6 linked regions of the Homo sapiens genome follow. The protein of the gene in region 1 purifies or fractionates together with the protein of each later gene. This does not show direct contact. Each region holds a gene or a part of one and is shown on either strand. Other genes may lie near its edges.

What was found.
Region 2: the proteins of ALDH2 (region 1) and MCRIP2 purify together in Homo sapiens (co-immunoprecipitation; one large-scale study listed by IntAct). This does not show direct contact.
Region 3: the proteins of ALDH2 (region 1) and HEXA fractionate together in Homo sapiens (co-fractionation; one large-scale study listed by BioGRID). This does not show direct contact.
Region 4: the proteins of ALDH2 (region 1) and ESD fractionate together in Homo sapiens (co-fractionation; one large-scale study listed by BioGRID). This does not show direct contact.
Region 5: the proteins of ALDH2 (region 1) and QPRT fractionate together in Homo sapiens (co-fractionation; one large-scale study listed by BioGRID). This does not show direct contact.
Region 6: the proteins of ALDH2 (region 1) and PAFAH2 fractionate together in Homo sapiens (co-fractionation; one large-scale study listed by BioGRID). This does not show direct contact.

Annotation. Positions count from the first base shown.
Region 1 is NC_000012.12:111,797,933-111,801,432, forward strand, and holds part of ALDH2 (aldehyde dehydrogenase, mitochondrial isoform 1 precursor), read left to right. Parts: intron 1-145; coding exon 146-310; intron 311-1,901; exon of another isoform or gene 1,902-1,973; coding exon 1,974-2,131; intron 2,132-3,500. UniProt on the Homo sapiens protein: Required for clearance of cellular formaldehyde, a cytotoxic and carcinogenic metabolite that induces DNA damage.
Region 2 is NC_000016.10:644,828-648,974, forward strand, and holds the end of MCRIP2 (MAPK regulated corepressor interacting protein 2), read left to right. Parts: intron 1-1,644; exon of another isoform or gene 1,645-1,781; intron 1,782-2,589; coding exon 2,590-2,717; intron 2,718-2,955; coding exon 2,956-3,057; intron 3,058-3,292; coding exon 3,293-3,363; 3' UTR 3,364-3,647; downstream 3,648-4,147.
Region 3 is NC_000015.10:72,366,015-72,369,514, reverse strand, and holds part of HEXA (beta-hexosaminidase subunit alpha isoform 2 preproprotein), read left to right. Parts: intron 1-3,500. UniProt on the Homo sapiens protein: Hydrolyzes the non-reducing end N-acetyl-D-hexosamine and/or sulfated N-acetyl-D-hexosamine of glycoconjugates, such as the oligosaccharide moieties from proteins and neutral glycolipids, or from certain mucopolysaccharides.
Region 4 is NC_000013.11:46,773,162-46,776,661, reverse strand, and holds part of ESD (S-formylglutathione hydrolase), read left to right. Parts: intron 1-3,500.
Region 5 is NC_000016.10:29,682,180-29,685,679, reverse strand, and holds part of QPRT (nicotinate-nucleotide pyrophosphorylase [carboxylating]), read right to left. Parts: intron 1-3,500. UniProt on the Homo sapiens protein: Involved in the catabolism of quinolinic acid (QA).
Region 6 is NC_000001.11:25,995,264-25,999,415, forward strand, and holds the start of PAFAH2 (platelet-activating factor acetylhydrolase 2, cytoplasmic), read right to left. Parts: upstream 2,801-4,152; 5' UTR 2,762-2,800; intron 2,359-2,761; exon of another isoform or gene 2,210-2,358; coding exon of another isoform or gene 2,185-2,209; intron 1-2,184. UniProt on the Homo sapiens protein: Catalyzes the hydrolyze of the acetyl group at the sn-2 position of platelet-activating factor (PAF) and its analogs, leading to their inactivation. Hydrolyzes propionyl and butyroyl moieties approximately half as effectively as PAF.

The sequences.
Region 1 (3,500 bases):
CCCTGTGTGTTTCCTCTTCTGATCTTGCTTTCTTATGACCTTGGTCCATTTCCCAGTTGTCTTGTTGCCTGCATAATTCTAAGCCTGAAGCCTAGGAGAGGTCTGAATCCGATGTCTCCATAACTCTGGGTTCCTTCTCCCACAGGTGGATGAAACTCAGTTTAAGAAGATCCTCGGCTACATCAACACGGGGAAGCAAGAGGGGGCGAAGCTGCTGTGTGGTGGGGGCATTGCTGCTGACCGTGGTTACTTCATCCAGCCCACTGTGTTTGGAGATGTGCAGGATGGCATGACCATCGCCAAGGAGGAGGTGAGCACTTGGGGCCAGTGCTCTGGAAACATTCTTGGCGGGAGGTGAGGTAAACAGTTCAGCCTGGCATCCTGATGCTGTCACCCATCTGCTGGCTTGGGGCCAGATCTCAAGTTATACCCAGAACCAGTGCCCATAACACGCTATTCATAGTATGTATCTGATCTTGTCCCTCCTCTTCAGCTTGTACCCTCTGTCTGGGAGATCGTCTGCATTCCTCAGCATGGCCTGCAGGCCTTGGTGTCCTGGCCCTCAGAGCCAGGAGTCTAGGAATGACATTGTCTGCTCCTTCCCATGACCTTTTTTCTTTCAGTCAGATTCTTGCTCTGTTGCCCAGGCTGGAGTGCAGTGGCATAATCATGGCTCCTTATAGCCTTGAACTCTTGGGCTCAAATGATCCTCCCACCTCAGCCTTCTGAGTAGCTGGGACTACAGGTGCTCACCACCATGCCTGGCTAATTTTAAAAAAATTTTTTAGTACAGGCTGGGTGCAGTTGCTCACGCCTGTAATCCCAACACTTTGGGAGGCCGAAGTGGGTGGATCACCTGAGGTCATGAGTTCGAGACCAGCCTGGCCAACATGGCAAAACCCTGTCTGTATTAAAAATAAGAAAAAATTAGCCCTGCGTGGTGGCGCTTGCTTGAAATCCCAGCTACTCTGGAGGCTGAGGCAGGAGAATCGCTTGAACCTGGGAGGCAGAGGTTTCAGTGAGCCGAGATCGCGCCACTGCACTCCAGCCTAGGCAACAGAGCGGGACTCTGTCTCCAGTTTTAGCCACGCCTGGCTAATTTTTGTATTTTTAGTAAAGACAGGGTTTCACCATGTTGATCAGACTAGTCTCGAACTCCTGACTTCGTGATCTGCCTGCCTCGGCCTCCCAAAGTGCTGGGATTACAGGCATGAGCCACCACGCCCGGCTTATTTTTTCTCTTCTCGTTTTGAGATGGAGTCTCACTCTGTCGCCAGGCTGGAGTGCAGTGGTGCAATCTCAGCTCACTGCAACCTCTGCCTCCCGGGTTCAAGCGATTCTCCTGCCTCAGACCCTACTAGTAGCTGGGATTACAGGCGCACACCACCACGCCCAGCTAATTTTTCTTATTTTCAGTAGAGATGGGGTTTCACCATGTTGGCCAGGCTTGTCTCCAACTCCTGACCTCAGGTGATCCACCTGCCTCAGCCTCCCAAAATGCTGGGATTACAGGTGTGAGCCATCGTGCCTGGCCAAAAATTTTTTTTTTTTTTTTGAGTAAAGACAGGGTCTCTCTGTGTTTGCCAGGCTGGACTCGAACTCCTAGACTCAAGCAGTTCTCCCACCTTGGCCTCCCAAAGTGCTGGGATTACAGGCATGAGCCACAATGCCCAGCTGACTTAAATTCTTTGACACTAAATCTACGTGTCACGTGTGAATAACATACCTGGCAGGATTGTTTAGAAATGGGATACTGTATGTAAAGCCCGGGGCGCACAGGAGGAAGTTGGCCCCTGTTAGCTCCATTCCCTCTGTGTTCTGCTGAGCTTGATGGCTGTTGTCTTCCCCTGGAACTGTTAGAGCATGGCTGGGGGCTTATCCCCCAATCTGGAATCATCTGTTCTGCTCTGAGAGAGCTCGATGGCAGGTGCCTCCGTGTTGCCGAACCCTCCTACGCTGCTCTCTCACTCCAGATCTTCGGGCCAGTGATGCAGATCCTGAAGTTCAAGACCATAGAGGAGGTTGTTGGGAGAGCCAACAATTCCACGTACGGGCTGGCCGCAGCTGTCTTCACAAAGGATTTGGACAAGGCCAATTACCTGTCCCAGGCCCTCCAGGCGGGCACTGTGTGGTAAGAGCCTCCCAGCAGCCCCTCACAACCCAACAGAGATTCCTCAAAGCCAGGGCCTACTGGAATCTGGTGGTCACCATCCTGGAATTTGGGGAGCTGGGCTCAGTTTCTCCTGGGTCAGGGTGTGATGTCGATTTGAGAGGTCCTGCTACCTCACCTCCGAAGGATCAAGCTTCTCTGTGGTGCAAAGGCCCTGCACCTGAACTTGGCAGGCAGCGGAGTGGTGGGGCTCCTCCCCAGCTGCCTCAGGGCAGGAGACCAGAGCAGAGGGACCCATGATTGTGACACTGATCCTAAAAGCTTAGCCTCTGCTTCACACTTAGCCCCCACTAGGATGGCTATATTTTTATTATTTATTTATTTTTAGTTTTATTTTTTCAGACAGAAAAAAATATTCTACCCAGGCTGAAGTGCTGTGGGGTGCGATTATAGCTCACTGCAGCCTTGAACTCCTGGGCTCAAGCAATCCTCCCACCTCTGCCTCCTGAGTAGCTGGGACCACAGGTGTGTACCACCACACCTGGACAATTAAAAAACATTTTTATTTTTTGTAGAGATGAGATCTCGCCATGTTGCCCAGGCTGGGCTATATGTATATATATTTTAAAGTATTGGTAAGGATGTGGAGAAATCGGAACCCTCCTATGTTGCTGATGGGAATGGAAAATGGCACACTCATTGTGGAAAATAATTTGGGAGCTCCTCAAAAAGTTAAACATGAAGCCCCCATATGACCCAGCAATTCCACTCCTAGGTATTTATCCAAGAGAAAGAAAAACGTGCTCCCACATAAAAACGTGTATATGAATCTTCACAGCAGCATTATTTGTAACAGCCAAAAGGTGAACACAACCCAAATGTCCGTCTGTAGATGAATGGATACAGAATGTGATCTGTCCATGCAATGAAATGTGGCTCAGCCACAGAAAGGAATGAAGTAGCTGTATGAGTCTGTTCTCACACTGCTGGTAAAGACATTGCAGAGACCGGGTAATTTATAAAGGAAAGAGGTTTAATGGACTCACACAGTTCCACGTGGCTGGGGAGGCCTCACAATCATGGTGAAAGGTGAAAAGCATGTCTCACGTGGTGGCAGACAAGAGAAGAGAACTTGTGCAGGGAAACTCCCCTTTATAAAACCATCAGATCTTGTGAGACTTACTCACTGTCACAAGAATAGCATGGGAAAGACCTGGCCCCATGATTCAATTACCTCCCACAACACGTGGGAATTGTGGGAGCTACAATTCAAGATGAGATTTGGGTGGGGACAAAGCCAAGCCATATCAGTAGCCATGCATGCAATAGCATGGATTAATCTTGAACATAACATTGAGTGAAAGAACCCAGACTGTCTGGGTGCGGTGGC
Region 2 (4,147 bases), on another chromosome or scaffold:
ACATCTCCTGGTGCACCCAGAGGGTCAAGGCTTGTCACCCATGATGTATGCTGGCTCTGGTTCCTGCCAGGCATGGGTCTGGGCACTGCCCACGACAGTGACAGACCAGATAAACCTTGGTTTGTTTTTTTAATTTTTATTTTTATTCTGAGATGGAGTCTCGCTCTGTAGCCCAGGCTGGAGTGCAGTGGTGTGATCTCAGCTCACTACAAGCTTCACCTTCCGGGTTCAGGCCATTCTCCTGCCTCAGCCTCCCGAGCAGCTGGGACTACAGGCGCCCTCCACCACACCCGGCTAATTTTTTTGTGTTTATAGTAGAGACGGGGTTTCACCGTGTTAGCCAGGATGGTCTCGATCTCCTGACCTCGTGATCCACCCACCTCGGCCTCCCAAAGTGCTGGGATTACAGGTGTGAGTCACCGCGCCCGGCCACCTTTGTTTGTTTTTGAGACAGAGTCTTGCTCTGTTGCCAGGCTGGAGTACAGTGGCGTGATCTTGGCTCACTGCAACCTCCGCCTCCCAGGTTCAAGTGAGTCTCCCACCCCAGCCTCCGGAGTAGCTGGTATTACAGGTGCCCGCCACCATGCCCGGCTAATTTTTAGTATTTTTAGTAGAGACAGAGTTTCACCACGTATGCTAGGCTGATCTTGAACTCCTGACCTCAGGCGACCCACCCGCCTCGGCCTCCCAAAGTGCTGGGATTACAGGCATGAGCCACCACGCCCAGCCCAGATACACCTTTGACAAGTTCTTCCTCCTGGTGGGAGATGGATAGGGGAGGCAGTAAGATAAACTGAGGCGATATAAGTAATAAGATGAAACGGGGCCATGTGATCACCCGACCCCAGGGCAGATGGAGGGTGTGGGGACCGCCACAGGAAGGGACAATGGAATGAACCCCACAGGGCGAGAAGGGGCAGCCTGCAAGAGACGGGGGTGGGGAGGCCCAGTGAGGGCAGGCTGAGGGGCTGGCTTGGGGGCTGTACTGGGTCAGGGCCATGGACTCTGTTGTTGGATTTGCTATGATATCCTGGTGCTGCCCCCACCCAGCATGTAATATGCTCAGGTGGATTCTCTCCCAAGCCCAGCTTCATGGGCTGAAAAAGGGATGGGCTGTGGAGGGGAGAGGAGAGGATGCACTCCACAGCCTTCACCTCCCTGGGCTGAAGTTTGCCCGGAGCAGTGTCCCTGGAAGTGGGAGAGGTTGGCGGTGATCCATAGGTGCTCGCCGGGCCGGTGCCCTTTCCCCCAGAGAGCAGCAGCCTTACGTAACCAGAGCCCCTGGGGCGGTGCCTGCCTCCTGGGGCCCATCTCTGCCCGAGAGCCGCCACCTCCGCCCTTCGATTCACAGCCCCTGGCAATGTTCTTGTCTTCTTAGACATTGATAATCCAACCTCCAAGCTTTCTTGGAGTTTCTGGCTTTCCGAGGTGGGAGTGGGTTGCAGGCAAGGGGGCTTTCCAAGTGGACAAACTTTATTCCCTGTGGTTTGTGCAGAAACTCAGGCAGCGGGCAGGCCTGGGAGGTGCCCCTGCCCCTGTCCCATCTCCACCTGCACGTTTTAAGATCCTCTGTGGCCACCAGACCCTGCCAGCCCTGGGGCCGGCAGGACCCTGCGCCCCTCAAGACACTCCTCTTTATTTTAGTGCCCCTCTCAGCTGAGGAGGAACCGAGAGCGGCGCTGGGGCACCTGAGCCCAGGAAGGCAACAGGCCGGCCGGGACCGCGAGTGCCTGGCGGAGCAGGCGCAGCCCAGGACTCCCGGCTCCCACCTCCGGCTGTAGGTGCGGCCCCATTCCCTCCACGGCCCTGTCCCGGGCTTTGTGTGCTCAGGGCTCGGCCAGCTGGGGCCGCTCATCCCTGCCCTGGGCCCGGCTGGCCGGGACGGGCCCAGGGGCCCACCAGACGTTGCGTGCGGCACTGCGGGAGCCATCTCCTTTGGCATCGCCCCTTGTCTCGGGCCGGTGGGGAGTGGGCGAGGGTTATAGTCACTCTCCCGACTCAGGGACTGCCCATCCCGGCACCCAGTCCTCATCCCATGGGACGTGGGGGCAGCCAGGGAGAGGGCAAAGGCCCCCGTTCCCGTCCAGGTCCATCCGTCCATGGAGGGAAACATCGTGGAGATGGAGGTGCTTCTGTGGGGCGAGAATGTGGCCTAGAACTACACCCAGAGTGGGGGGGTTGGGGCAGAGAGACATGGTCATGGACTGGGTCGTGGCTCAGGTCAGAATCTGGGCTGCTGATGGGATGCAGGTGGCAGCATGGGCACCTGCAAGACCCTCGGGGAGGGGTACTGAGTGGGGCCCGACCAAAGGTTTGGGACACTCTAAGACTGAGGCCCCCACCCTACAGTCACTCACTTCCCTCAGGACACAGGGCTGCAGGTGTGAGCTGAGCTGCCGATGGCTTGGGGACTGCAAGAGAGGCCTGGGCCACCGGCTGCTGTGGGTGGCTGCTCTCTCTGGTTCAGGAAGTGCCTAGGCTGGCCAAGTCTGGGGAAAGTGGGCTGGCCCGGGGCTGCTCCTGAGTTCTGCCAGGCAGCACCGCACCTGGGATGGGCACCAACCATGTCCGTCTCCTCCCTTCCTGCAGTCCAGGGCCAAGGCTTGTGTTCAATCGTGTGAATGGCCGGCGGGCCCCCTCCACGTCCCCATCCTTCGAGGGGACCCAGGAGACCTACACAGTGGCCCACGAGGAGAATGTCCGCTTTGTGTCCGAAGGTAGCGAGCGGGGCCAGAGGGTGCGGCATAGGCTGCTGGGTCGCAAAACCATGGACCCGGGATGGCCCCACTTCAAGCTGACCCACAGCCGCTGCATGGCTGTGCTTTTCCTTGGCACTCTGCCCTTGTGTCCTGTGACCAGCCCTGTGTGGGGCTGGAGTCCAGGGTGACCATCAGGCCCTGGGTGGGCGATGGGGTGCCTGGGACCTGGCTCAGCCCGACTGCCCTCCTCCCACAGCCTGGCAGCAGGTGCAACAGCAGCTGGATGGTGGCCCAGCCGGTGAGGGCGGGCCAAGGCCTGTGCAGTACGTGGAGAGGACCCCCAATCCCCGGCTGCAGAGTGAGCCCCCCAACCCTGTCCCCCCAGGAGAGACCCCCCAGCCCCTCTGATCCTGACCCAGGCCCTGCCAGGTTCCCACCCCAGGGGATGAGGGAGGGGACTCTTGTGCAGAAACCCCTTCTTCCCAGCGCCTGCCGCACTCGGAGTCCGGGTGAGCGGCTTGTGGTTAGCTCCAGGGGAGACTTGCCGGCTGGCCTGGGAGGCAGCATCACTGCCCAGCCTTCTCTGCCCACAGACTTTGTGCCCATTGACCTAGACGAGTGGTGGGCGCAGCAGTTCCTGGCGAGAATCACCAGCTGTTCCTAGTGGCTGCTGGGAGGGGGCGCTGCTACACGGCCGACCTGTCGCCAGGAGAGAAGCATGGCGCCCTGCCCACCCACTGCGCCTGGCTGGGTGCCGGCCACACCTGAAGTGCCAGCATTTGGACTTTTGCACCTTTTTTTCCCTTGGCCCGGCTGTCCCAACCAAGCTGCCATGGCCAAGGGCCGAACCCGTCTGACCTCAGCCCTGCTCACTGTGCCCAGGGACCAGCGACCAGCCCCTGGGGCTGGCAGGGAGGAGCTCCAGGCTAATAAAGTGGAGAAACTGTCTTTTTGGAGTGTCTTTGACTTGGGAGGGTGTAGGGGGGGTTCTCATGTCCAGTTCCAGTCCACAGCCTGGGACGCCAGGCCCAGCACAAACTCCCCTTGTAGCCCTGTTCCTTCAAGCCGTTAGCTTCTCACCCAGCTGCCCTGCGACAGGTAGGAGGGACGTTAGCCAGCCCACCTTGCTTGGAAGTCTGGGGACCCCACTTGGTTCCTCTTTCCTCTCCCGTTGGCGTTGACTGGGACCGAAGCCGAGACTCAAGGCCTAAAGACATTAAATGGCCCCGGAGTGCAGTCCACCACCCCCCACTACCGGCACTGGGGCTGTGTCTCAGAACGCCAGGTCCCATTCTGAATCCGCCGGGCCCGGCCGCAGGACACTGGGCGAAGGAGTACGTGGGGAACCTGATAGGACGAACGTGGGAACCAGCCCCTCCGCGGGCGCCCGCACTACCTTCCCTGATGGACGGGGATGACCCAGCCCACCTGAGTCAGGACCCAGGGTA
Region 3 (3,500 bases), on another chromosome or scaffold:
AAAGAAAGGGATCACTCTTATGTTTCTGCAGTTTCCTAAATTTCTTCTACTGGTCCTGAAAATAAGTGATAAAATAGAGTCAATTTGCATCATCCTCAAGAGGTTCCATGACCTTTTTGGAGCCACTGACAACAAAGTCAGCTGAAGAAAGGAGGTTGGGTCTGTAGGGGTCAGAGAGGTGTATGTGTGAAGAGTTTTCTGTGGTGTGAGCTGTCTCAAGGTTTACATGTTTACAGTCCATTGTAATACAGAAATGGATTATATTTTCTTCTGTATTCCTGGCTGTAATGAATAAAACCCATTATTGGGTCAGGAACTTGAGTCTTCTCTCTTCTTGTCCTTTGTTCCTGTTTCAAGCTGTGGCATTTGCTTAAGCTTCCTGGCCACACACTCAGCCCTGATCCCCAGCCAACTGCTGTATGCTATTGTTGTGTCCACATCTTGAGGCTGGTTAGGCTTGGGTGTGGTGTAGAGCTCCTTTCTGTGGAAGCGTATACTCAAAAATACAGGACGTATGGGTGTTTGTCAGCTGTCATTAAGCAGCCTTCCCCTTCTTTTGTAAAGCTCTTGGGATTGAGGGGGTAAGAGAGATGCCTTACTAGGTACACTGTTATGCATGAAAAGTTTAACTACTTACTGTTTGTTCAACCTTGTCCTTGTTGTAACTAGGATTCCACATTAGTGGCTTTGTTGTTTTGCCTGGAGCTGCAGTCCTAGGTTGGGGGAGATTCAGAGTTCTAAGGCCATGTCCCTCTTGTATTTTGAAGTGTCAGCCTGTTCATATACAGAATGGCATCTCACAGTAGTGAAGCCTTCAGTCTCCTATAAGAGGCTCATGAAAAACCCTTCAGGGAAGCTGCTCCTAGAGTGTGGCTTTGCCATAGGAGACCCTGCCCCAGGACTCCTCTGGCCAAATGAGAGAGTCGAGGTTTGCTGGGGCAAAACTGTCTTATTGGGAAAAGGGAAGTAGAACACGGAAGGAAACTAGCATTTATTGTCTGGCACTTGATGTATGTTATTGCCCTTTAATCTTCATAAACAGCTCTGTGAGGTCAGTGTTATCCCAATCTTTGAGAATGGAGACATAGAGGCTAAGTAACATGCCCAGGGTTACACAGCTTGTAGGGATGGAGCAGAAATTCCAGTCATGCATAAATTTTGCTTTTGTCACTGTACAGTCTTGTAATATACTCATACACGTCTTTGTCAGTCCAGTTAGCAATTTGGAAAACTACTGGCCTCTGGCAGGATTAAGCTCTAATCACATCTTAGTGTTAATTACTTCAAATAGGTAGTAACTTCTAACATCTAGTTACTCATAAGCACTCAGGTTATGAATATTTTGATCCCTGGCCCATTGTTACCAGATTCCAGTAGCATTTCTTCCTTCCTCCCATCTATTCTTAGTACAGGTAGTATTTATTAAGTAACTTTAATTGTCAATAGTACTAGGTCCAAGGAATATTAAATTGAACTTCCCCGTCCTTAAAGAATTTACAGTTTCTGGAAGTGGGGATACAGACAGAGTGTGATATTTTTCTATGATAACTGAAGCACAAGGTACTTTGGGAGTGCAGAAGAGGAACACCTGACCTAAGTGTATGGGGGGAAAAGGAGAAAGTGCACATTGAAAAGGCTTTCCTAGAGAGCTGTTGAAGGAGATCTAAAAGTAGAAGTTAGTGGGGGTGAAGATAGTATTCCGCATAGAAAGAACTGCGCGTGGAAAAGGCCTACAGGCGAGAAGCCTTCATGCCATATTCAAGGAACTCAAGGTGTCTAGCTGAAGTACACAACTCTAGGGTGGATCAGCAAGTTCTGAAGCTAAAGAGGTGATAGATGGAAAGGTCATGAAATGGCCTAATAAGCCCTGGTAAGGAATGGAGCTTTATCCTAAGGTCAAAGAAGGCCAGTAAAGTCCAGTCAACAGGATAAGTGATGTGACTAAACTCTAGCTACATTGGGGCTTGCTGTAGAGTGGGATTAGAGGCAGGAAACCCAGTTAAAAGGCTGCCAACAGTGGTCTAGATAAGAGAGAGTAGTGGCTGAAGTTGGGTTGATGGCTGTAAGGACAGAGAAAACTAGAAAGACTGAAGAGAGATTTAGGAGGTGGCTGCTTGGAAGTGGGAGTTAGGTTGGAGGGAAAGGGTGCTGAGGATGACTCCCAGATTTCTGACTTAGCAGTTTGAATGTTGGCTCTCATTCACTCGTGCTGCCATTAACAAAGATAGGGAAAATAGTAGGAGAGGAAGGGAAGGAGTAAAAAGAGCTAAATTGGTGGTCGTGGTGGCTCACACCTGTAATCCCAGCACTTTGGGAGGCTGAGGCAGGTGGATTACCTGAGGTCGAGAGTTCGAGACCAGTCTGACCAACATGGAGAAACCCCATCTCTACTGAAAATACAAAATTAGCTGGGCATAGTGGTGCATTCCTGTAATCCCAGCTACTCTGGAGGCTGAGGCAGCAGAATCGCTTGAATCCAGGAGGTGGAGGTTGCAGTGAGCCGAGAGTGCGCCACTGCACTCCAGCCTGGGCAACAGGAGTGAAACTCCATCTCAAAAAACAAAACAAAAAAAAAACAGTGAAATTAAGAGGTTGAGAGGTAGAGTGAGAATCATGAAAAGTAAATTTGATTTTGACGTGTTGACTATGAGGTATCAAGCAAACAGTTAGCTATGTAGTACTAGAGCTTGGGAGAATGAGTTTGAACACTTCCGAGGAGAAGAAGGTCCAAAAGGCAACCACAGGAGGGTGGTTGAGGAGGAGGAGGAGGATGTTGTTGGATGACTGCTAAGCCAGAACATGGGTTAGTTCTTCCTCTTGGGTGTGAAAATCATCTAGGATAATAGCCAGCCTTGAGGTGGAGAGGAATACTGGGCAACAGGATCCAAAGTATTAAGTAAATAAGGTTGGGCATGGTGGCTCACACCTGTAATCCCAGCACTTTGGGAGGCTGAGGCTGTGGGATCACTTGAGGTCAGGAGTTCGAGACCAGCTTGGCTAATGTGGTGAAACCCCGTCTAATTTGTAAAAATAGAAAAATTAGCCAGGTGTGGTGGTGCACACCTGTAATCCCAGCTACTTAGGAGGCTGAGGTAGGAGGATCACTTGAGCCTGGGAGGCGGAGATTGCAGTGAGCTGAGATCGCGCCACTGCACCCCAGCCTGGGCAACAGAGGAGGACTCCATCTCAAAAAAAAAAAAAAATTAAGTGAATAAAGAAGTGATCAGGAAGCTACAGAGTGTTGTAACAAGGAGAGCTGAAGATTTAACAGCTGGATGACATGAACCACAGAAGAAAGGTGTTTTATTACTTGGTGGTGGTGGAATGGATGACCCAGAAGCAGCCCCATATCTCAACCCTATGATGTGGGAAGTGGCTGCCTCTCAGAGCATGTTGTAGGGGAAGTGGTGTGTGGTATTCCTGGGGAGAGCCAGGCTTCAGTTAGGGAGGAAGTAGAAGAGGCTGAGTAATTAAGTAACTACACAACAAGATCTCAGAGG
Region 4 (3,500 bases), on another chromosome or scaffold:
TGGTACATTAGTTTGTAAAATGCTTTCACAGCATTAACTCATTGTTAATTCTTATACCGCCAAATGAGATATCATTTCTTTCCTATCCATCTGTTTTACAAATGAGGAGACAGGCTCAGAGAAGTAACCTACTTATCTAAGGCCACATAGCTAGTAAGTGGTGGAACCAGAACTGGAACTAAGGCCATTTAACTGCAAATACTGACCTCCTGTCATTTATCAAGCCATTTTCAGACGGCATGATATTCTCCTGAGGAGCAAAGGAATGGAATTAGAGCTAGCACAAGGAGAAATTGTGCATAGCTTGCTGCCTACGTAACTTATGCAGAAGATCTGAGCAGTCTTCCTGTTTTTAGGGATATTTTGCACATGTGAACTATATAGTGAGAAAATGTCAAAAACTAATACATGATATACTGTTTGTCTCTTAGTGTCCATCCTTGAGTAATAGAATTTTGTTTTAGATTTATTTGAACATTTACCATCACAATTAAATTTTAGGTCAACAACCAGCCTTGAGAAATCCAAATACCAATTTGACTATAAATATAGTAATACGTTTAACTGCAATAACTATAGCTATAAGTGCGTACCAAACCATGTTTTTTCCAAATGACCTTAATTTCTTGGCACTACCCATGTTGGATACCTCATTTGCTTCCCCAAAGACTGGGCCCAAAATTTCTGTTGTTTCTACAATGATTCTGCCTGCCAACAAAGTCTGAAAATCTCAAGTTTGTTATAAAAACAGCACAGTTAGAACATGATGACATTCCTGGAGGGAAAAATAAGTCCACTTATTTGTTTCTAAAATGCCTGTATCCCAAGCAACTAGAACACATAGTTGGCTATACTTAATGAGGAGTCAAGACAAACCATTCAATTCTTCTAAAAAAGTAAGAAAGTATTCAAAGCACCAGAGTCACAATGTTGAGCTCAGGTGCAATTTTCTATTCACTTTACTTCCAGCATGGTCGGGTTAAGAGTGGACTACATAGCTTGAAGCGGATTTCGTTGAGATTCGTTGTAATTGAATCAACAACTGAATGAGCATGCCTAAGTAGTGGCTCCAGAGAGTCTGCTTTCAGATTTTCTTGCCAGCTTTGACCCAAGATTACCCTGGGTCTGCGAGTTTTATCACCTGCTTTATCATTTGATTACAAGTATAGTATAACTGTATTTCCTTGTGGGATAGAAGCTGTAAAAAATAAGCTGAAAATAATAGGGGATATATATAAATAAACGATCTGAGAAAGAATAAAGAAAATAATTACAATCATGCACATGATTTACTCAACTTCATTCTTTTACCTCTTTTTAATGGTGTTAAATGCTCACAATTTATATTTATACTCTGTCGAATGTCAAAAAAAATTTTTTAGAGAGAGGGGTTAGTGCATCGGGGATATTTATTTGGTTATTATTTTATATAATTTTTTCTTTTTCTATTTTGGCTTCAGGGAATCTAAATTGAAAAAAAAATACTAGGTAGCAGAATTCTGATATCTAGTGTACAGAGATCAAATCTTAGTCTGAAAAAGAAGGGCCTAGTATGTCTTATCTTTAGTTATTGGAGTTACACAGTGAGAAAAAAAAATTTAGTGACCTAATACTGTGAAGAAGTTTCCAGAAATAGTAATCTCTTTTTGTGGAATAGAAGGAGAGGCTATACTACCTCCTTAAGTCTCAGGACCTTTTTGAAGATTGAGAGGCTGTTTTAGCCTCTGCATCTGCCTGCTAGAGAAGAGTAAGAACATGGCAGAGAATCCCAGAAATGTAGAGCTCTCTCATTCATCTCTGTATCCCATGCTTATTTAGCATAGGTATCTAGCACAGAGACTCTCAATACTTGTTAAATGAATACAGTGCAAAGTCTTCCTCCTTATACACTGAAGAGATTTAATAACCTGGGGATTCTTATCCAAGCTTTTCTAATTGGGTCTGGAAAATATATAAGAAAACACTGCCTGTTAGGATAAACATCCATCATAGCTGCTGGAGCACTGCTCCCTTTTTGAGAGCTGAGTGAAGAATGAAAGAATGAAAGGTGTTCATTTATTTTTATACTCCAGGAGTCAAGAGTTTTGCTACCAAGGATTTTCCATTTAAAGTGTGAGGTAGAGGAGAAAAGTCCCCTTCAAGTGTCACTAAACATAGGCATTTGCACAAGCTGCTTAACATATCATACCAACTCATTCATCAAAGAATTTAATTAAAGAAGCCATCCCCATTTAATAAGACTGATAAATAGAAACCCTCGTCAGGGATGATACAATTAGCTCGAATTGTGTAACTTCAGCAGGATACCAATTGTTCAAATGTATTCTATTGCCTTTTTGTTGACATTTTTTAAAATTCTTGGGCCCTCAATGGCAGGCATTTTCTTCTTTCTCATATAGGTGAATCTTTATCATTATGGAACTTATGGTCATTTGTTTTGGATTTTAGATGTCTTGTCTTGCAATATATTCCTGGGTTTACCTTGGGACTTCTCTAATAATAATGATGGCTATTCATATGTGTCTGATGGCTCTTAACACACAAGAAACTAAGGATAAAAATATGGCATACTCAGTCACATTGGAACTTGGTCACACAAGTCTTTTGAGATATCTGTTTCCCTGCATCTGTACCCATTTTCTATCAGATCCATCTTTTGATCTGTGAAAAATGGCAGATAATACTTGGTACATTTTACAGGTTTGGTGGCCTAAAACTCCAGGCCTGTTTAACTTCTTAACAATTCAAGAATTATATGGATGGAAAATGTTTTTCTTTACATTTCTTTCTTTATATAGGAAACTGTAATTTAGCTCTAAATTCAACTAGCCAGCTGGGACTAGTCTAATCATTGAGAGACATGACACCAAGTAATTCCGAGGCTCAGCTTTAATCTTGACAACATTCCTGTCACATTCACTTCCATGATAGAAGACAGATTGCTTTAGAAGACTTAAGTTACCTTGACCTTAAACTAGAACTTTTTATTAACAGCTGTTCCCAAGATAAACATTTAATACCTCTCTGGAAGGGAGAGATTGAGAACATTTACTGATTCATCAAAACCTTGGGGATTTCCTTGTTCTCTGAAGCGTCAGTGATATTTTTATTAGCTCTATTTTTATTTCTTAGGTGCTTAGAAAAATTCCCATCTTTTCCCATCAGTGACCATTCACTAGTTCAAAATGGGAAAAACAAAATCTTTGTTAGACTTTCATTTCTTTCGGTTTATTCAACCTTGTATTTTAATTGTAGATAGGGATAAATTATCTGGTGTTTGATACCCTTAGAAAGTTCTTCCCACCTGGAGTGTAAATTAGTTTAACCATTGTAGAAGATAGTGTGGTGATTCCGCAGACCTAGAGGCAGAAATGCCATTTGACCCAGCAATCCTATTACTAGGTGTATACCCAAAGGAATATAAATCATTCTGTTATAAAGATACAAGCACACATATGTTCACTACAGTACTATTCAATACTATTCAATAGCAAAGACAT
Region 5 (3,500 bases), on another chromosome or scaffold:
GTTTTGCTCCAGAAGGGTCACTTCAGCCACCAACTGGAGACAGATTGGGAGGCAAAAGAAGGCTGAGGTAGTCTTGGCCAGACAAAAAGTAGGCTGGGCGCGGTGGCTGTCACCTGTAATCCCAGTGCTATGGGAGGCCAAGGCAGGAGGGCCACTTGAGGCCTGGGCAACATAGTGGGACCCTGCCTCCACAAATAATTTTTTTTTGTTTGAGACGGAGTCTCACTGTCGCCTGGGCTGGAGTGCAATGGTGTGATCTCAACTCACTGCAACCTCTGCCTCCCGGGTTCAAGTGGTTCTCCCGCCTCAGCCTCCCGAGTAGCTGGGATTACAGGCATGCAGCATCATCCCTGGCTAATTTTTGTATTTTTGTAGAGATGGGGTTTCACCATGTTGGTCAGGCTGGTTCTTGAACTCTTGACCTCAGGTGATCCACCTGCCTCGGCCTTCCAAAGTGCTGGGATTACAGGTGTGAGCCACTGCGCCCGGCCAACAAATAATTAATTTGAAAAAATATTTTCAAAAAAACCAAAAGAGATGGAGCCCTGAACTTTGACAGTAGCTCTGGGGTAGATTTGAGGGCTATTTCCAAAAGGGGATCTACCAGAATTAGTAGCTAAAGAGATGTGGGAGCCTTGGGCCTCTGGCCTGGGTAGCTGAGAGCTGGCAGAAGGAGTCATTCCAGGAGAAGAGCAGGCAGGGTGGAGGTGGGACAGCAGGAGGGGGCGGTGACCCCACTGAGTGCCATGGCGTGCCAGCCATGGCGTGCCAGCCGCGGGCACCCCTGTTCCCCTTTGTGCTCTCATCTGGAGCTCACCACAGGGATTCTTCCCATTTCACAAGAACAGAAGCTGAATCCCAAAGCGTTTCCTGAATCGTGGCCTGGTGAAACAGCTTAGCTTCTGCAGAGCTCGAGAGAAAGAACGGATTTGGTTTTGCAGAGGTTAAGGCTGAGGCGGCAGCAGGAGATGTGGATGGTGGTGCCCAGAGGGTGGTAGGGAATGGCTCTGGAGTTCAGAAGAGATGCTGCCGTGGCCAGGCGCGGTGGCTCACGCCTGTAATCCCAGCGCTTTGGGAGGCCGAGGCGGGAGGATCACGAGGTCAGGAGATCAAGACCATCCTGGTGAAAACGGTGAAACCCCGTCTCTACTAAAAATACAAAAATTGAACTCCGGGGCCAACATAGCAAAACCCCGTCTCTACTAAAAATACAAAAATTAGCCAGGCGTGGTGGTGGGCGCCTGTGATCCCAGCTACTCAGGAGGCTGAGGCAGGAGAATCGCTTGAACCTGGGAGGCAGAGGTTGCAGTAAGCCGAGATAGTGCCATTGCTCTCCAGCCTGGGCAACAAGAGCAAAACTCCGTCTCAAAAAACAAAAGAAAAAAAGAAAAAGTTAGCTGGGCATGGGGGTGCACGCCTGTAGTCCCAGCTACTCGCCAGCTACTCGGGAGGCTGCGGCTTGAGTCCAGGAGTTGGAGGCTGCAGTGACCTGTGATTGCACCACTGCACTCCAGCCTGGGTGACAGAGCAAGCCACGGTCTCTAAAATAAAATAATAAGATAAAGAACCCACAGGGCATGTCCAACAAAAAGAGAAGCATCATCAGGAGTGGGTACCTGGGAAGGAGAAGAGGGTTTTGGGAGGTGAGCAGAAGTAAATAGAAGGAAGACTGAGGATGGGGCTCTGCACTTAGCAACTGTGAGGCCTGTGCCAGAGCGGTTTTTGTGCCATGTGTCGGGGGCAGAAGCCACATTGTCATGCTCGAGGAGCGCACGGGAGGTAGGGAAGTGGGGGTGTTGGTGTGAACCACTCCTTTCAAGAGAAGTGGACACAGTGGGGCCTCTGCCTGGGCTGCACACCAGAATCACAGGGAGCTTTTCAAACTTTCAGATGCTCAGGCCCATTCCAACCCAGTGAACCAGAATCTCTGGGGGTAGTTTCCAGGGATCCAGGTTGGGGAAGAGCCAGCCCCCACCCTGCTCTGTGACTCAGATGCACATGAGGATCAAGAATCAATGCTCGGCCAGGGGCGGTGGCTCATGCCTGTAATCCCAACACTTTGGGAGGCCGAGGCAGAAGGATCGCTTGAGGCCAGGAGTTTGAGACCAGCCTGGGCAGCATAGTGAGAACCCATCTCTACAAAAACAATTTTAAAAATTAGCTGGGCATGGTGACACACGCCTGTAGTCCTAGCTATTCAGAAGGCTGAAGTGGGAGGATCCCTTGAGTCCAGGAGTTGGAGGCTGCAGTGAGCTATGATGGAGCTACTGCACTCTGGCCTAGGCAACAGGGTGAGACCCTGCCTCAGGGAAAAAAAAAAAAGAACCAATGCTCTCATAAGACCACATATTGGCTGGGCGTGGTGGTCACACCTGTAATCCCAGCACTTTGGGAGGCCAAGGTGGGCCTAAGATCACCTTAGGTCAGGAGTTCGAGACCAGCCTGGACAACATGGTGAAGCGCTGTCTCTACTAAAAAAATACAAAATTTATCCATGTGTGGTGGTGCACGCCTGTAATCCCAGCTACTCGGGAGACTGGGGTGAGAGAATCGCTTGAATCTGGGAGGCGGAGGTTGCAGTGAGCCGAGGTTGCGCCACTGCACTCCAGCCTGGGCAACAGAGTGAGATTCCATCTCAAAAAAAAAAAAAAAGAATCAGTCAGGTGTGGTGGCTCATACCTGTAATCCCAGCACTTTGGGGCATTTGAGACCAGCCTGTGCAATATAGTGAGACCCCTATCTCTAAATTAAACATTTTTTAATCAAAAAAATAAAGTTTCAAAGACTCTTAAAACATACTAACCAATCACAAAGTGTAGATTTTACTTAGATCCTAATTCAAACAAACTAAAAGCAAATTAGGCTATTTATGAAACCACTGGAATCTGGACATTGAATGTTTGATAACACCAAGGAAATTTTTAAAGTTTAGTTTTGACAATAGTATTGTGGTTGTAGTAAAAAGAAAAGTCTTTATCTTTTAAGAAAAAAACATGATGAGGCTGGGCGCAGTGACTTGCGCCTGTAATCCCAGCACTTTGGGAGGCCAAGGTGGGTGGATCACCTGAGGTGAGGAGTTCAAGACCAGCCTGGCCAGCACGGCAAAACCCATCTCTACTAAAAAAAAAAATGCAAAAAAATTAGCTGGGCATGGTGGTGGGCACCTGTATCCCCAGCTACTTGGGAGAGTGAGGCAGGAGAATCACTTGAACCTGGGAGGCAGAGGTTGCAGTGAGCCAAGATCACGCCATTATACTCCAGTCTGGGCAACAAGAGCGAAACTCCATCTCAAAAAAGAAAGAAAGAAAACATGCTGAGATGTTCACATATGAAAAGATTTGAGCCAGGCACGGTGGCTCATGCCTGTAATCCCAACACTTTTGGGAGGCTGAGGTTGGAGGATCGCTTGAGGCTGGGAGTTTGAGACCAGCCTGGGCAACACAGCAAGAACCCATCTCTAAAAAAAAAAAAAATTTATTTTAATTAGCCAGGTGTGGTGG
Region 6 (4,152 bases), on another chromosome or scaffold:
ATCTTAGACTACTTTAGGGCAGCTCTTGGATTAACACCTATTCTAGCAGTTTTCAACCAGTGACTTGCCTGCAACAGTGGTCCATAGAGAATCTAGATCTTAGGTTCCTGAACCTATTGTCACAATCACCTGGGAAGCTTTTCAAAAATGTATATTCTGGGGGCCCCTATTTCTAGTGATCAATTCGTTTGTAAAAGCTTCCCAGGTGTTTCTGATCAGCAAAGTTTGAGAACCTCTGGTCTAGACTTTGATTAGAAATGTCTCTGGATGAACTTTTCTTTCATTCAGACACGTATGCATGCAGCAGACGCTTACTGAGTATATACTGTGTTCTGGTCCACATTTTCACGACTACGATTTCACTTGCTATAATCCCCATGGCCACCCAGAAGCATGTTCCTATCACTAGACTTAATGTAGTGCCCTGCATATAGCTGGTCTCAATAATTAATTTATCCAATGAATACTATTTAATTTTTGGCACACTTATGCCTCATCTCTTCAGATCTACTCCGGGGGTAAAGATTGGGTTTTATATTTTTTTGTAGACCAAACTGTCTATCTGCATGCTTTCCCCATATAGTTGGGACTCAATAAATGTTCCTTCATTTGGCTATGATTTAAACCCATCTCAAGTCTTCTTTAATCTTTGTTTTTGATCTAAAAATAAGGCTATATGAAATAATGGGGGACAAAGGTTTTGATGACTCTGAATTCTACCCCTGTCACTTATTAGCTGTGTGATCTTGAACAAGTTCCTCAAACTCTAAGCTTCTGATAATTTATTCTCACAACAGAAATAATAACTATGGCCAGACGCAGTGGCTCATGCCTATAATCCCAGAACTTTGGGAGATCAAATGGGAAGGATTGCTTCAGCCCAGGAGTTCAAGACCAGCCTGGGCAACATGGCAAAATCCTGTCTCTATAAAAAAATTAAAAAAAAAAAAAATTAGCTGGATGTGGTGGTATGCAACTGCAGTCCCAGTTACTCAGGAGGCTGAGGTAGGAGGATTGCTGGGGCTTGGGAGCCGGAGGCCACAGTGAACCAAGATTGTGCCACTGCACTTCGGCCTGGGTGACAGAGCGAGGTCTTGTCTCAAAAAGAAATAGTAACTATGGGCCGGGCGCGGTGGGAGGCCGAGGCGGGCGGATCAGGAGGTCAGGAGATCGAGACCATCCTGGCTAACACGGTGAAACCCTGTCTGTACTAAAAAAAATACAAAATATTAGCTGGGCCTGGTGGCGGGCGCCTGTAGTCCCAGCTACTTGGGAGGCTGAAGCAGGAGAATGGCGTGAACCCGGGAGGCGGAGCTTGCAGTGAGCCGAGATCGCGCTACTGCACTCTAGCCTGGGCGACAGAGCGAGACTCCATCTCAAAAAAAAAGAAATAGTAACTACTCACGAGATTGTTGATGAGGATTAAATAATGCATGTAAAGCACTCGATGGATAGAAGGTACTATAACCATAGGAGGCAACTATAATTATTTTAACTACATGCCTCTCAAGTTCCTTATACGTAAAATGGATACTTCGTAAGTGAAAATATTGCCTAGGGCCTGGTGCATTTTCAGTGCTTATAAAATGTTAGGAACTAATTAACAATGCTATGTCTCTCTTTCCTAGCCAAGGTCTCTCATTTTTCCTGGATTAAGCCCTTTGGCAAAACAGATTCTTTCCCAGCAGCCTTTTCAGGCCTCAGACACCCCTACCAAAGCCAGTGTCTACTGAACAGGCCCAGAGGAGCCCAGAGGGAATGGATGGGGCTTAGGTTGCAGCTGTCCTCTCCTGCTGGGACCCTGTTTCTGGTGAGCAGAGGACTGCTGCTCTGCCAGCTGTGTGACACTTTCATCACTGGCTATTTCAAGATACAGTCCAAGATAAGCACTTCTCTTGTGCTTCCTTTCAGACAAAGCTCTCTGAAGACTAAAAGCTCATTGGCCTGACCTTTGGTCTCTGGAGGAAGTGAGGAAATATCATCCAGCTCGTAGACAATGAAGACACCAAGCACTCGAGGGATGAGATTGAGCAACAAGGTGGCAGAGCTAGAGAAGAGGCCTGATAAGAGTGTTCCAGAGCATTAATAATTGTGATAAAAATAATCTCTGTCTCTTGTGAAGGTCTTACAGTTTACAAGGCATCTTCACACATACTAGCTTGTTGGCTCCTCAACACTCCTCACCTGAGACTGATGGAGCAACAGTCATCTCCGTTTTAGAGAGGAAGAAACTGAGTCCCAGAGTTGTATGATTTGCCCAAGGTCACAGAGGGTGAGAGGCAGAGCTGGCCTAGAACCGGGTCTGCTGACTTCGAGTCCAGGGTAATCGCGGATCGGAAAGAAGGAATGGGGACCCTTCTTCCACCGCCATGAAAAACAGAAAACTGAGAGTAAGAGTAAAGTACACAAAGGGTGGAGGAGCATAAAGAAGCCCGGGGTTCAGGGATGTGAGGCTGCAGGGTGAAGGTAGGGCCGAGGAATCAGGGTAGGGCTGTGGGGTCCAAGGTGGGGCTGCGGGGGCTGGGTCCTGGGACGGGAGCTCAGTGGGGATTCCAGGGGCACTGGCCGTTAAAAGTGCGAGGCGACCGTGGGAGGGTCAAGGGAGCGGGTGGCTACAGGTGTCTGAATAGGAAACGTAAAGGACGAAGATTAATGTGCAATTCCTATGACTGAGAGACGCCGAGGCCCCAAACCGGGCCAGAATACAAAAGTCTGCAGGAAGCTCAATTGAGATATAGGTGTTTTCTCCAATCAAACTTACCCAGTCAAGCTGATTCCTCAGAAGCAGCCCCAGACGTTTAACTCGACGGAAATGAGAAACGACCCATGAACCCGTGGCCCTTTGGTCGTCGTAGTTTCCAAGGCTCAAAATGGACGCTTGGAAGCACTTCTCGTTCCTCAATCTAGAACTACAATTCCCGATGTACAGTGCGCGAGATTGCGCATTACAACTCTAAAACTACACCTCCCAGAGTTCTACGCGACCGTCCAGCCCCGCGTGGTCGTGCGAAACCGCCCAAGGCCTGGGATGCGGTGTGATTCCTCCCCCTGGTGGCCTGAAGAGGTGCCGCCGCGATTTCTGCTCTCGAGCGGAGGGTTTTGCCTTAGTCCCGTGCGTAACCCTCCGCCTCACCCTCCTCAAATAGTCCTCAGGCGTGCCTAGAAATGGTCCCCGCTTCGCTTTATTCTCAAGGAGGTGGGAGGAGGTTGGAGTTTGTTTTGTGTCTTCTGCACACTTTGCTTCCTGTAAGAATAATAGACTGATCATTCAAATTAAGGGGACATTCCCTACCAGCCTGCATCTGTTGACACCTGTGATTTTCCATTGTCCTCAAAAGACTCCCTGGCAGAGAAAGGGGAGGAACCCGAGTAATCTGCTGGGCCGCATCCATCCCACATTACTGTCTAATGCTGGTTCTTAGCGACACTGATGGACAAGATACCGCTCCTAGCCTCAACAGAATCACAGTCTAGCAGAGAATTCAGACAAATGAATAATGACAGCACAGAGCCGTGATCTCATGGGGAGACACAGCAAGCGTGGGAGCCTTGAAAAGGGGCCTCTGGCCAGGCTTGGGGGAAAAGGGCGGTGTCCGCAAGGCTTTTTAGAGGGAGTGATGTTTGTTAACATTGAGACCCGATATAAGGAAAGAACGTAGCCAGGAGTACAGAGACTGTGAAGGACGTTTCAGAGTATGGCATTAAGTTCAGTGCTGGCTGCAGCTAAGTGTGAGGGATGGAAGGAGAGTATTCTCGGGGGAGTGGGCGTTAGGCAGAGCCCATCCTCAGGAGTTCTGTAAACTTCTATAGGAAATTTGGATCGTTCAGGCAGCTCAAAAACGTTCAACGGCCCTCTACTACCTATGAAGTGAAGTCCCAACTGCTTAGCCTGACATTCAAGGTCTTCTCCAACCTGCACTCCCCCACGCCCCACCCCCCACCCTTCAGCGCCCCTCCTCTGGGAGCTTTGTTCATGCCTCCAAAGTTTCCGCCGACATCTGTGTGTGCCTCGCACATGTGAGTCGACTCACACTGCCTTGGGTATCTCCTGTATTAGAGGTCTTAACTCTTGACACATTGTGAGCTCTTTGAGGTCAGGTACTGAGTCCTGCAGTCGCCCCCTCCACCCTACTCTTGCAGCCCACATCCCCC